3 linked regions of the Homo sapiens genome follow. The protein of the gene in region 3 interacts with the protein of the main gene of each other region in a biochemical or structural test. Each region holds a gene or a part of one and is shown on either strand. Other genes may lie near its edges.

Region 1 (3,748 bases), on a different chromosome or scaffold from region 3:
CTCGGAGCCTCTCTCCCAGGTCTGGGCACAGTATATCTTCTTTTAAGGGGTCTTCCCTTCCCACTCCCACTCCTCTTTCTGTCCTAGAAGCACCAGAAACTCCGGCTCTAGCCTTGCGCATGGTCCAGCGAGACTTCCCATACAGGCAGCGCACGCCACCCACCCCCAGCTCCCCTCGGCCTTGCGCCCGCGCCGCGGAAGGTTGGGTACCAGCCTCCACAGCTTTGCAGATTGCAAAGATAACGGGAGCTGCCGCTTCGCTTTTCTTTGGCTCCTCCTGGCCTTCATCCTAGTAAAACCAGACAAGCAACCGGAAAAACAAAGCAGCACAGCGGCCAGAGACAATTCGCTTTCAACGGAGCAAGAGACGTACACACCTTGAGAGAAGACGCACGCAGTTCCCGTGCGTGTCGCTGGGAACAGACCTCGCACTACCCCGCGCGGCGACAGGCACCGGGCCAGGCTCGGCTTCACTTGTCCGAGGCTTGGAGGAACTGTGTGCGTGCGCCCATTTCCCCCAGCTTCCCGACTTGACAGCAGCAAGGATCTTTGAGTCCTGCATGAGCGACACCTCGGGCAAGGACTGTACTCTGCTCAGATCTCATCGAGAGGTGCTGGATCCCAGCCTTTCCAGCTCATTTTCCAATTTTCAAGAAAAGACAGCGCGAAGTGAGACTGCAAAAGTCCCAGGAAAACGTCACTCACCAAAACGCTCCCGCGCCTTCCAGGCAGAAGTGCGGTAAAACTTTTGGCAGAAACCACCTGTGGCTGCCGACGGGCCCGCCCCGCTCGGGCCCGCAGGCGCCGCCGAGCCCCGGGCCGCACGCGCCCGCAGAAGTTCCTTTCCAGCCCCGCGCGCCACTTCGCTCCGGGCCGCGGTGCCAGCCAGGAGGCGCGGCGCCCGCTCGCTGGCTCGCTCTCCGCTGGCTCTCCCCTCCCTCCTTCCCTCCCTCCCTCCTCCCGCCTCCTCCGTTGCATGGCTGCCGCACGGAGCCCCTGAATAGCCACCGCAGCCCCCCGCCTCCTGCCCACCGCGCGGAGGGCGCCCCTGCTCCAGCCGGCGCCCCAAGGCGCGCGGACCGCCGGCCTCCTAGCAACGGCCCCCGCAATCGCTTTCCGGCGCAGCCCAAGCAAAGCCACCCGCCCGCCGCCCCGCGACCTCCCGAACTGCCTCGGCTGCCGAGGTGCTGTGGAGATCGCGACCCCGGCAGCCGGCGCCCGAGCCCGGCGCGCGAAGCCGCTCACCTCCGCGCGCCGCCGGCCCTGCGCGCCTCCCGCACTTGGCTCCGGGACGCAGTCCTGGCGTCCTCCTTCGCCGCCGGTGTCCGCCGGTCCCTGCGCGCCCGAGCCTCGCCGGCCGCGCCGCTGTCAGAGTCTCGTGGCGGGGCTGCGCCGGCGGGTATGGAGCTGAGCGGCGGCAGCGGGCGAGCGGGCAGCTCCTCCCTCCCCGCGCCGCGCCTCCGCCCTCCCCGCGCCCCGCCTCCCGCGCCGCGGCTGTCAGCCCCGCGCCCCGCGCCCCGCGCCCGCGCCGCCGGCTCGGGGGGCGCACAGGGCTAAAGGGCCCGGATGTGTGCGGTCGCCTGTCGCTCGCGCCCGCCCCCTCCCCGCCGCGCGGCACATGCACTTGCTGCGCCGCAGCCCCCGCCCGGCTCCGCTAATTTCTATTTTGACAGTAACTGTGGCGAGTGGGCGGCGCGGCGGGGGGCGCCCGGGACTGGCGGAGGCTGCGGGCGGGAGTCAGGACCCGACGCGGAGGCGGAGTGGGGGGGCCGGGCACCGCCACCAACCGCTCGGGGCTCCGCGTCTTTTCTCTTTCTTTCCTTTTTTCTCTCTGCCTCCTCCAGGATTTAAAGGGACAGCCCCGGCAGAGGCGAGGGGGCCAGGCGGCCGCCGTTTCTCCGGTCTCCTGACGCCCTCTGCGGCCCGGCCGGACCCGCCCGCACCCCCAGCGCAGGCTTGGGACCGCCGGGTATTTTTAGGTCCACACCCGACCCGGGGCAGCGGTGCGGCAGAGATGGGCTCTGCCGACCCGGGGCAGCGGTGCGGCAGAGATGGGCTCTGCCGCCCCGGCGCACGGCTATTTTTACAGAGTCCGATGGGGGAGGAAATAAAACAACTCGGCAACTGCTTTTCTACCCGAAAGTCGGGAGCAAGGAGTGGGGGCGAGAAGTTAAGTTTCCCAAATGCTCTCGGCACTCCAGCGAGCGCACCAAGACGCCTAGCCAGCACCTGAAACCGCAAGCTTGCCGCACCCCGGGGCGCCGAATCTCAGCGGGCAATCGCGCTCGGCGGCGCTGCGGCCCGGAGTCCCCACCCCTCTGGAGCCTTGGGCCCCGCACTCCGCACCCCACACGCCGGGGAGCAGCCGCTGGCCGCCCGTCACTCCCCGGGTCGGCCTGGAAGGCGGCCTTCCGAAGCGTCCAATCACCGCGCAACAATGCCAACGGGCGGGCCCGGGGAGGGCTTGTCCCCGCCCCGTCCCGCCGGGCCCCGCCCCCTCGGAGTCTGTCGGGGCAGGAGAATCTCGCTGGGACGCCGAGTGCTCAGCGGTGCTGGAAGCCACGAAGGGCCAGTGCGAGGGGAGGAGGAAGGGTCCTGGCCCTGGAGAGGGCGTGAGCGTTCTCGGGCGAGGCGACACTTGGGCAGATGTTCCCTCCAGCTACGGGCCGGGGAAACTCGAGCTGGCTTTGCCTCCTACCTTTTTGCAGTCCACCCCTCTGCGCTCCAGACAGACATAGGAACCCTCGCCCTCCTTGGTAGTACATCGGAGGCAGCACCCTCGCACGTCAGCGGGTCCTCTCCGGGGCTCCTCCCTCAGAAGCGGGAAAGTTTGTCGTCCTCAAACTCCTACCCGGCTGCGCTTATCTGAGGCGCACCTGGCGCCCAGGAGAGGCGAGATGGCGAATCCCGGCCGCCTAGTGCCCATTCTGGCTACGGATTAATAAAAGGGCAGTGGGGCTGCTGCTGTGTCCTTTAATGCTGAAGACACTGGATGACATTTTTTACAGAATTCACAAAAATAAGTTTGTGAACCTTTGGTGCCTCTTCCTAATATCACTTATTGGGATTTTTTTTTAAACCATTTCATTCATTCGTGTAATAAACGCACATTGCAAGATAGTACGTTGGGAGTAGTGAAAACAAGGGAAAACGGGCTCTGGAATAGGATGTAAGAGTGGAAAACTAGATATGAATAGAGGGATCTGAAACGTAGGGTTTGGGTACAATTATGTCACGTTTAATTTGCCAAAGAGATCTGGTTTTTCCTACTAAGTAAATTTCACCAAATGAACAGTTTGGACAGCCATCTTATCCAAACTATTCAAATGCACATGTAAATCTAGGATAGTCTATCGTGGAACCTAAGGTATGTTCAGGCTCAGGATGTCAGATTTCCAAGTTGCTAAAGCTTCCAGAATGGCAAAATAATATATCTCGCTTTCAGCAGCTGTGGCAGCCACTGCCCTCTCATATTAGGTTTGTCTCTCTGTTAAATTAAGTTGCCTGTCTTGCTTCCCTTCATTAAAGGGTTTTCAGTTACTTGGAATGCTGCTGACCCAGCTGATATGGCCCCGCTTCTAAGCCATAAGTCTGGCTGCGCCTCATGCCAAGCATGCGGATGCATTTAGAGAGCACCTAGAGGATCCCAGCCCTGCAAATGCCCAGACACCTGCAGGAAATAGAAATGTAGTTCTGGGGGTGAGGGCAGCTACAGCCATAAAAAGGGCATTTAGGTTGAGAAAAGAGG
Region 2 (3,748 bases), on a different chromosome or scaffold from region 3:
TTATGTTGGTGCATTTAATTATCTCAGCAATCCTATGACTTAGGTAATATTATCTCCATTTTATAGGTGAAGAAAGTAGCCCAATATCACAAGCTAGTAAGTGAAGGAGCTGGAATTTCAACCTGAAAAATAGAGCCAGAGCCTGAGTTTAACGAATAGGGTAACTTGACTTTCTTTCTTTCTTTTTAGTAATTTCTAAGAGAAGAATAACTGTTTTTTAATTTAATTTTTTTAAATTTCAACATTTATTTTCGCTATAGTGGATACATCTGCAGGTTTGTTACATAGATATATTGCACCCAGGTAGTGGGCATAGCACCCAATAGGTAGATTTTCCATCTATGCCCTCCTCCCAACCTTGCCCCTCTAGTAGTCTGCAGTGTCCATTATTCCCGTGTTTATGTCTATGTGTGCTCAATATTTATCTCCCATTTATAGGTGAGAGCATGTGGTATTTGGTTTTCTGTTCCTGCATTAGTTTGCTTAGGATTATGGCCTCCAGCTTCATCTATGTTGCTGCAAAGGACATACATTTTTTACAGCTGCATAGTATTCCATGGTGTATATGTAACACATTTTAAAAAACTGAAATCCACTATTGATGGGCACCTAGGCTGATTACATGTCTTGCTATTGTGAATAGCACAGCAATAAACATGAGTGCATGTATCTTTTTGGTATAATGATTTATTTTTCTTTGGATATATATTCAGTAATGGGATTGCTGTGTTAAATAGTTCTGTCTTAAGTTCTTTGAGAAATCTCCAAACTGCTTTCCATTGTGGCTGAACTAGTTTACATTCCCACCTACAGTGTATAAAAATTCCCTTTTCTCTGCAGCCTTGCCAGCAACTGCTGTTTTTTGACTCTTTAATAGTAGCCATTCTGATGGGTGTGAGATAGTATTTCTCTGACGATTAGTAAGGTTGAGCATTTTTTCATGTTTGTTGTCCACCTGTATGTCTTCTTTTAAGAAGTGTCTGTTCATATCTTTTGCCCACTTTTAATGGGGTTATTTGTTTTTTGTTTGTTGATTTAAGTTTTTCATGCATTCTAGGTATTAGACCTTTGTCAGATGCATGGTTTGTGACTATTTTCTCTGATTCTGTAGATTGTCTGTTTATTCGATAGTTTCTTTTGCTGTGCAGATACTCTTTAGTTTAATTAGGTCTCACTTGTCAATTTTTGTTTTGTTGCAATTGCTTTTGGAATTCTTCACCAAAAATTCTTCACCAGGGTTGATGTTAAGAAGGTTATTTCCTAGGCTTTCTATAATTTGAGTAAAATATTCACAATACTAGTCACTCCATAGTGTTCTGTCTATAGTCAATGAATTGAAATATATGTGCTTATCATTCAGATTTAAAGGCAGATTTGTAACATCCTCTTCTTGATTTGTTTTCCTTCTTTTCCAAATCTCTGCCTGTATTAATCCATTTTCATGCTGCTGATAAAGACATACCTGAGACTGCGCAATTTACAAAAGAAAGAGGTTTAATGCACTCACAGTTCCATGTGGCTGGGGAGGCCTCACAATCATGGCAGAAGGTAAAAGGCATGATTGTCTTTCTTACACAGTGGCAGACAAGAGAAGAGAGCTTCTTATAAAACCATCAGATTTTGTGAGACTTATTCATTATCACAAGAATAGCATAGGAAAGATCTGCCTTCATGATTCAATTACCTCCCATCAGATCCCTCCTACGACACATGGGAATTGTGAGAGCTACAGTTCAAGATGAGATTTGGGTGGGGACACAGCCAAACCATATCATTTTGCCCCTGGCCCCACCCAAATCTCATGTACTCACATTTTAAAACGAATCATGCCTTCCCAACAGTCATCCAAAGTCTTAACTCATTTCAGCACTAACTCTAAAGTCCACAGTCTCATCTGAGACAAGGCAGGTCCCTTCTGCCTATGAGCCTGTAAAATCAAAAGTAAGTTAGTTACTTCCTAGATACAACAGAGGGACAGGCACTGGATAAATAGACCCATTCCAAATCAGAGAAATTGGCCAAAATGAAGGGGCCAAAGGCCCCATACAAGTCTGAAATCCATCAGAGCAGTCAAATCTTAAAGCTCCAAAATGATCTCCTTTGGGTCCTTGTCTCACATGCAGGTCACACTGATGCAAAAGGTGGGTTCCCATGGCCTTGGGCAGCTCCAACCCTGTGGCTTTGCAGGGTATAGCCTCCCTCCCAGCTGCTTTCACAGGCTGGCATTGAGTGTCTATGGCTTTTCCAGGTGCATGGTGAAAGCTGTCGGTGAATCTACCATTCTGGGGTCTGGAGGACGGTGGTTCTCTTCTTACAGCTCCATTAGGCAGCACCCCAGTAGGGACTTTGTGTGGAGGCTCTGACTTGATAGTTCACTTCTGCACTTCCCTAGCAGAGGTTCTCCATGAGTGCACTGCTCTTGTACCAAACTTCTTCCTGGACTTCTAGGCATTTCCATACATCCTCTGAAATCTAGGTGGAGGTTGCCAAACCTCAATTCTTGACTTCTGTGTACCTGCAGGCTCAACCCCACATGGAAGCTGCTAAGGCTTGGGGCTTGCATCTTCTGAAGCCATGACCCAAGCTGTAGCTTGGCCTCTTTTAGTCACAGCTGGAGCAACTGGGACACAAGGCAACAAGTCCCTAGACTGCACACAGCAGAGGGACCCTGGACCTGGCCCATGAAACTATTTTTTCCTCCTAGGTCTCCAGGCCTGTGATGGGAGGAGCTGCCTTGAAGACCTCTGACATGCCCTGGAGACATTTTCCCATTGTCTTGGTGATTAACATTCAGCTCCTCATTACTTATGCAAATTTCTGCAGCCGGCTTGAATTTCTCCTCAGAAAATGGGATTTTCTGTTTTATCGCATTGTCAGGATGCAAATTTTCTGAACTTTTATGCTCTGTCTTCCTTATAAAACTGAATGCCTTAATAGCACCCAAGTAACCTTTTGGATGCTTTGCTGCTTAGAAATTTCTTTCTCCAGATACCCTAAATCATCTCTCTCAAGTTCAAAGTTCCACAAATCTCTAGGGTAGGGCAAAATGCCAACAGCCTCTTTGCTAAAACATAACAAGCGTCACTTTTGCTCTGGTTCCCAACAAGTTCCTTATCTCCATCTGAGACAATCTCAGCCTGGATTTCATGTCTAGATCACTATCAGGTTTTTGGTCAAAGCCATTTAACAAGTCTCTAGGGAGTTCCAAACTTTCCCAAATTTTCCTATCTTCTTCTCAGCCCTCCAAACTGTTCCAACCTCTGCATATTACCCAGTTCCAAAGTTGCTTCTACATGTTCAGGTATCTTTTCAGTGGCACCCCACTCTATTGGTACCAATTTACTGTATTAGTCCGTTTTCACACTGCTGATAAAGACATACCTGAGACTGGGCAATTTACAAAAGAAAGAGGTCTAATGGACTCACAGTTCCATGTGGCTGGGGAGGCCTCAAATCATGGCAGAAGATGAAAGGCATGTCTTACATAGTGGCAGACAAGAGAAGAGAGCTTGTGCAGGGAAACTCCCCCTCATAAAACCATCAGATCTCATGAGACTTATCCATTGTCATGAGAATAGCATGGGAAAGACCCACCTCCATGATTCAATTACCTCCCATTGGGTCTCTCCCACAACACAACATATGGGAATTGTGGGAGGTACAATTCAAGCTAAGATATGGGTGGGGACAGAGCCAAACTGTATCACTGCCATATAAGGAATAATAGTTGATAGATAAAAGAGAGAGG
Region 3 (3,748 bases):
GCGCCGTTTCGGCTCACTGCAACCTCCGCCTCCTGCGTTCGAGCGATTCTCATACCTCAGCCTCCTGAGCAGCTGGGACTACAGGCGCGCGCAAGCACGACCGGCTAATTTTTGTATTTTTAGTAGAGACGGGGGTTTCACCATATTGGCCAGGCTGGTCTCGAACTCCTGACCTCAAGTGATCTGCCCGCCTGGGCCTCCCAAAGTGCTGAGATTACAAGCGTGAGACAACGAGCCCGGCCCAGTCTGCTTCTTTATTTAGCCTGATCTCTCTCTCCTCTCTCTACGAAGATGAGTTTTCTCACAAACTACACCCTTAACTGGGAATACCCGTTTTCCTGCCTCACTCCGCTGAGCTTCCCTTAGATCTTAGCTTTCTGGGGGACAGAAGCCTCCCGGGATTCCCCCTAGGCTGAGTGATGTGTCTCTACTCCGTGCTTCAGAGGAAGGAGGGCTTTCTGCCCTCGCAGCAGTATCAGAATTGCTGATTTACCTGTATGTCTCCCACATGGGTCTCTGAGCTCTGGGTGACAATGGTGATACAATTAATAACAGCAACAAACACACAGCATTTACTTTGTACCCATAAGTGTTCTAGGAGCCTCATTTCCCCTTTATTACAATCTTAGGAGGCTGATTTTATTATCATCTCTGCTTAAAGGATGAATAAACCCAGGCAGAGAGAAAAAGCCAAAAGTGCCTAAGGTCACAGCAGGGAATGGGGATTCAAACCCCGCTGCTGGGCTCCACGGTTCACACTCCTAACTCCAGGATCGAGGATCCTGGAGGATCGAGTCCGCCCGCATCACTCGCTCTAGCTTCACCATCTATCAGGTGCTGAACCACCGTCCGCAGTACGAATGAATGAATGAAATGCTTTTATACAGGGACAGCGTCGGCCTCCTCTGTCAGCTCCTCCTAGGCCCGGGCAGCCCCGCTCCCTCCCGCCCCGGCCGGCCGACAGGAGCTGCCCCGGCACTGCGCTCCCTCGCGGCCGCAGAACGCCCACCCTCGACAGCGCGCGGGGTCAAGGGGCGGTGACAGCCGTGCGGCGGGGGCGGAGATGCTACCAGCTGGGGTGTCATCCAGCCCGGGAGGTGACACGCGCCCCCTCGCCCGGGCGGTCGCCTGGCCGCCCACTCCCCGCCAGCACGCCCGGCGACGCCCCCCGCCCCGCCACCCCACAATCTCCCGCCCAGCGGTGTCCCCTCAGCCCCGGTTGGCGTCCCATTCCACTTCCCTCCCCTCCCCCACACAACCGTCACCGGCGTCCCACCGCGCCCCATCCTCCGCCGCCTCCGCCCCGGCTCCCGGGACTTCCCCGGCCCCGGGCGATTGTTGACACTCACCTGCCATGTCCCGGACCCCACCGCAGAGGGAGGTGCATCACGGCCGCGAGAAGGCCGGGGACGGCACTCCAGAGCAGACAAAGGGCGCCGCCATGTTAGAGTCGGGCGGAACCGACCTCGCAGGCTTCCCGGCTGCAACTTCCGGCGCATGCGCAGCGTCCTCGCTAGGAGAGCGCCCATAGACAGACGCATGCGCCTAGCTATCCAAAAGTTCCACCTTACAGTACTTCGGCGCTCAGAGTTGTCCTCATTGTACCCCTGCCTTGGTTTCTCTTCCAAATATAACAGTAACATCATGTGTTCAGCTCTTACTGTGTGCCAGGCACTGTGTTAAGCGCTTTACATGCATTATCTCTTTAAATCCTCACACCAATTATAAGATAGTATTATTCTCCTAATTTTAAAAAAGGGAAAACAGACTCAAAAAGTGTAAATCAATGTCCATGGTCACATATCTTGTAAGTGGTGGACCGGAGATATGAATCTACTTGTGGCTTCAAAGCTGCAGATCCCAGTTGTGTTTTTCTACCTTCTAAACCGAACATTATCCCCTTCCCTGATTGTCTTGGACGTGAATAAAGGTGTCTGAAAACAAAAGTGTCTGCAGACTTGCATGGCCCCTCCGTGGCCCCTCTTCTACCTTTTTGGTAGCTCTAGGCCACTGACTTCTCCACTTTCTCACAGTCTGAGGGCTTTCTCCTTTGTTTACTTCTAGGCCTGCATATTTTCCATAATCTATAATTTTAACAACACTCTTGCCACTACTGTAAGCTCTTTTGCCCCCTTGCCTTTTTGTCACATGGATTTGGTAAGAATACCAACGCTGTGTGAATCCAAATGCACCTTTTCTCTTTGTTAGCTCCCAAACAGCCAAGCACAGCTGAAGAAAGTATGCAGTGGGGAGACTGTTCCCTAGAGATTCATGTCCACTAGCCTTCAGTGGGATGCAACATATGCCAATCTGGCAACTCACTCCTGTCTTCACAATGGCTAGAGAAACAAAAAAGCCCAGCAGTTGACTTCACCCCTTCTTGTCTTTAGGTTTTTTTTTTTTTTTTGGAGACAGAGTCTCACTCTGTCTTCCAGGCTGGAGTGCAGTGGCGCTGTCTCGGTTCACTGCAAGCTCCGCCTCCCGGGTTCACGCCATTCTCCTGTCTCAGCCTCCAGAGTAGCTGGGACTACAGGCGCCCGCCACAACACCTGGCTAATTTTTTGTATTTTTAGTAGAGACGGGGTTTCACCATGTTAGCCAGGATGGTCTCGATCTTCTGACCTCGTGATCCACCTGCCTCAGCCTCCCAAAGTGCTGGGATTACAGGCGTGAGCCGCCGTGCCCGGCCGTCTTTCTTTTCTTTCTTTTTTTTTTTTTTAGATGGGGTCTCGCTATGTTGCCCGGCTGGACTGAAACCCCTAGGCTTAAGCATCCCATTTCAACCTCCCCAGTAGCTGAGACTACAGGCATGTGCACCCACAACTGGCTAACTTCACCCGTTCTTTTTAACTATATTTTTAATTTTTATTTCAGTAGTTTTTGGGGAACACATGGTGTTTGGTTACATGGATAAGTTCTTTAGTGATGATTTCTGTGATTTTGGGGGACCCATGACCTGAACAGTGTACATTCTACCCAAGGTGTAGTCTTTTTTTTTTTTTTTTTTTTTTTTTGAGATGGAGTCTTGCTCTGTTGCCCAGGCTGGAGTGCAGTGGCGCCATCTGGGCTCACTGCAAGTTCCGCCTCCCAGGTTCACGCCATTCTCCTGACTCAGCCTCCCGAGTAGCTGGGACTACAGGCGCCCGCCACCATGCCCGGCTAATTTTTTGTATTTTTAGTAGAGACGGGGTTTCACCGTGTTAGCCAGGATGGTCTGGATGTCCTGACCTCGTGATCCGCCCGCCTCGGCCTCCCAAAGTGCTGGGATTGCAGGCGTGAGCCACTGCGCCCAGCCAACCCAAAGTGTAGTCTTTTATCCCTCACCCCTCCCACCTTTCCCCCTGAGTTCCCAAAGTCCATTGTGTCATTCTTATGCCTTTGCGTCCTCATAGCTTAGCTCCCACCTAAAAGTGAGAGCATATGATATTTGGTTTTCCATTCCTGAGTTACTTCATTTAGAATAATGGTCTCTAGCTCCATCCATGTTGCTGCAAATGCCATTATTTCATTCCTTTTTATGGCTGAGTAGTATTCCATGTTATATATATATACCACATTTTCTTTATCCACTCGTGCATTGATGGGCATTTGAGATGGTTCTATATGTTTGCAATTGTGAACTGTGCTGCTACAAACATGCGTGTGGAAGTGTATTTTTCATATAATGACTTATTTTCCTCTCTGTAGATACCCGCTAGTGGGATTGCTGGATCTAATGGCAGATTTACTTTTAGTTCTTTAAGGAACA

What was found.
Region 1: the proteins of ZBTB17 (region 3) and ZBTB7C form a complex in vitro, tested with the Homo sapiens proteins (one study listed by BioGRID).
Region 2: the proteins of ZBTB17 (region 3) and TMPRSS11A form a complex in vitro, tested with the Homo sapiens proteins (one study listed by BioGRID).

The regions. Positions count from the first base shown.
Region 1 is NC_000018.10:48,407,981-48,411,728, forward strand, and holds the start of ZBTB7C (zinc finger and BTB domain-containing protein 7C), read right to left. Parts: upstream 1,404-3,748; 5' UTR 1,246-1,403; intron 780-1,245; exon of another isoform or gene 378-779; intron 1-377. UniProt on the Homo sapiens protein: May be a tumor suppressor gene.
Region 2 is NC_000004.12:67,956,780-67,960,527, reverse strand, and holds part of TMPRSS11A (transmembrane protease serine 11A), read left to right. Parts: intron 1-3,748. UniProt on the Homo sapiens protein: Probable serine protease which may play a role in cellular senescence. Overexpression inhibits cell growth and induce G1 cell cycle arrest.
Region 3 is NC_000001.11:15,974,634-15,978,381, forward strand, and holds the start of ZBTB17 (zinc finger and BTB domain-containing protein 17), read right to left. Parts: upstream 1,469-3,748; 5' UTR 1,350-1,468; intron 1-1,349. UniProt on the Homo sapiens protein: Transcription factor that can function as an activator or repressor depending on its binding partners, and by targeting negative regulators of cell cycle progression.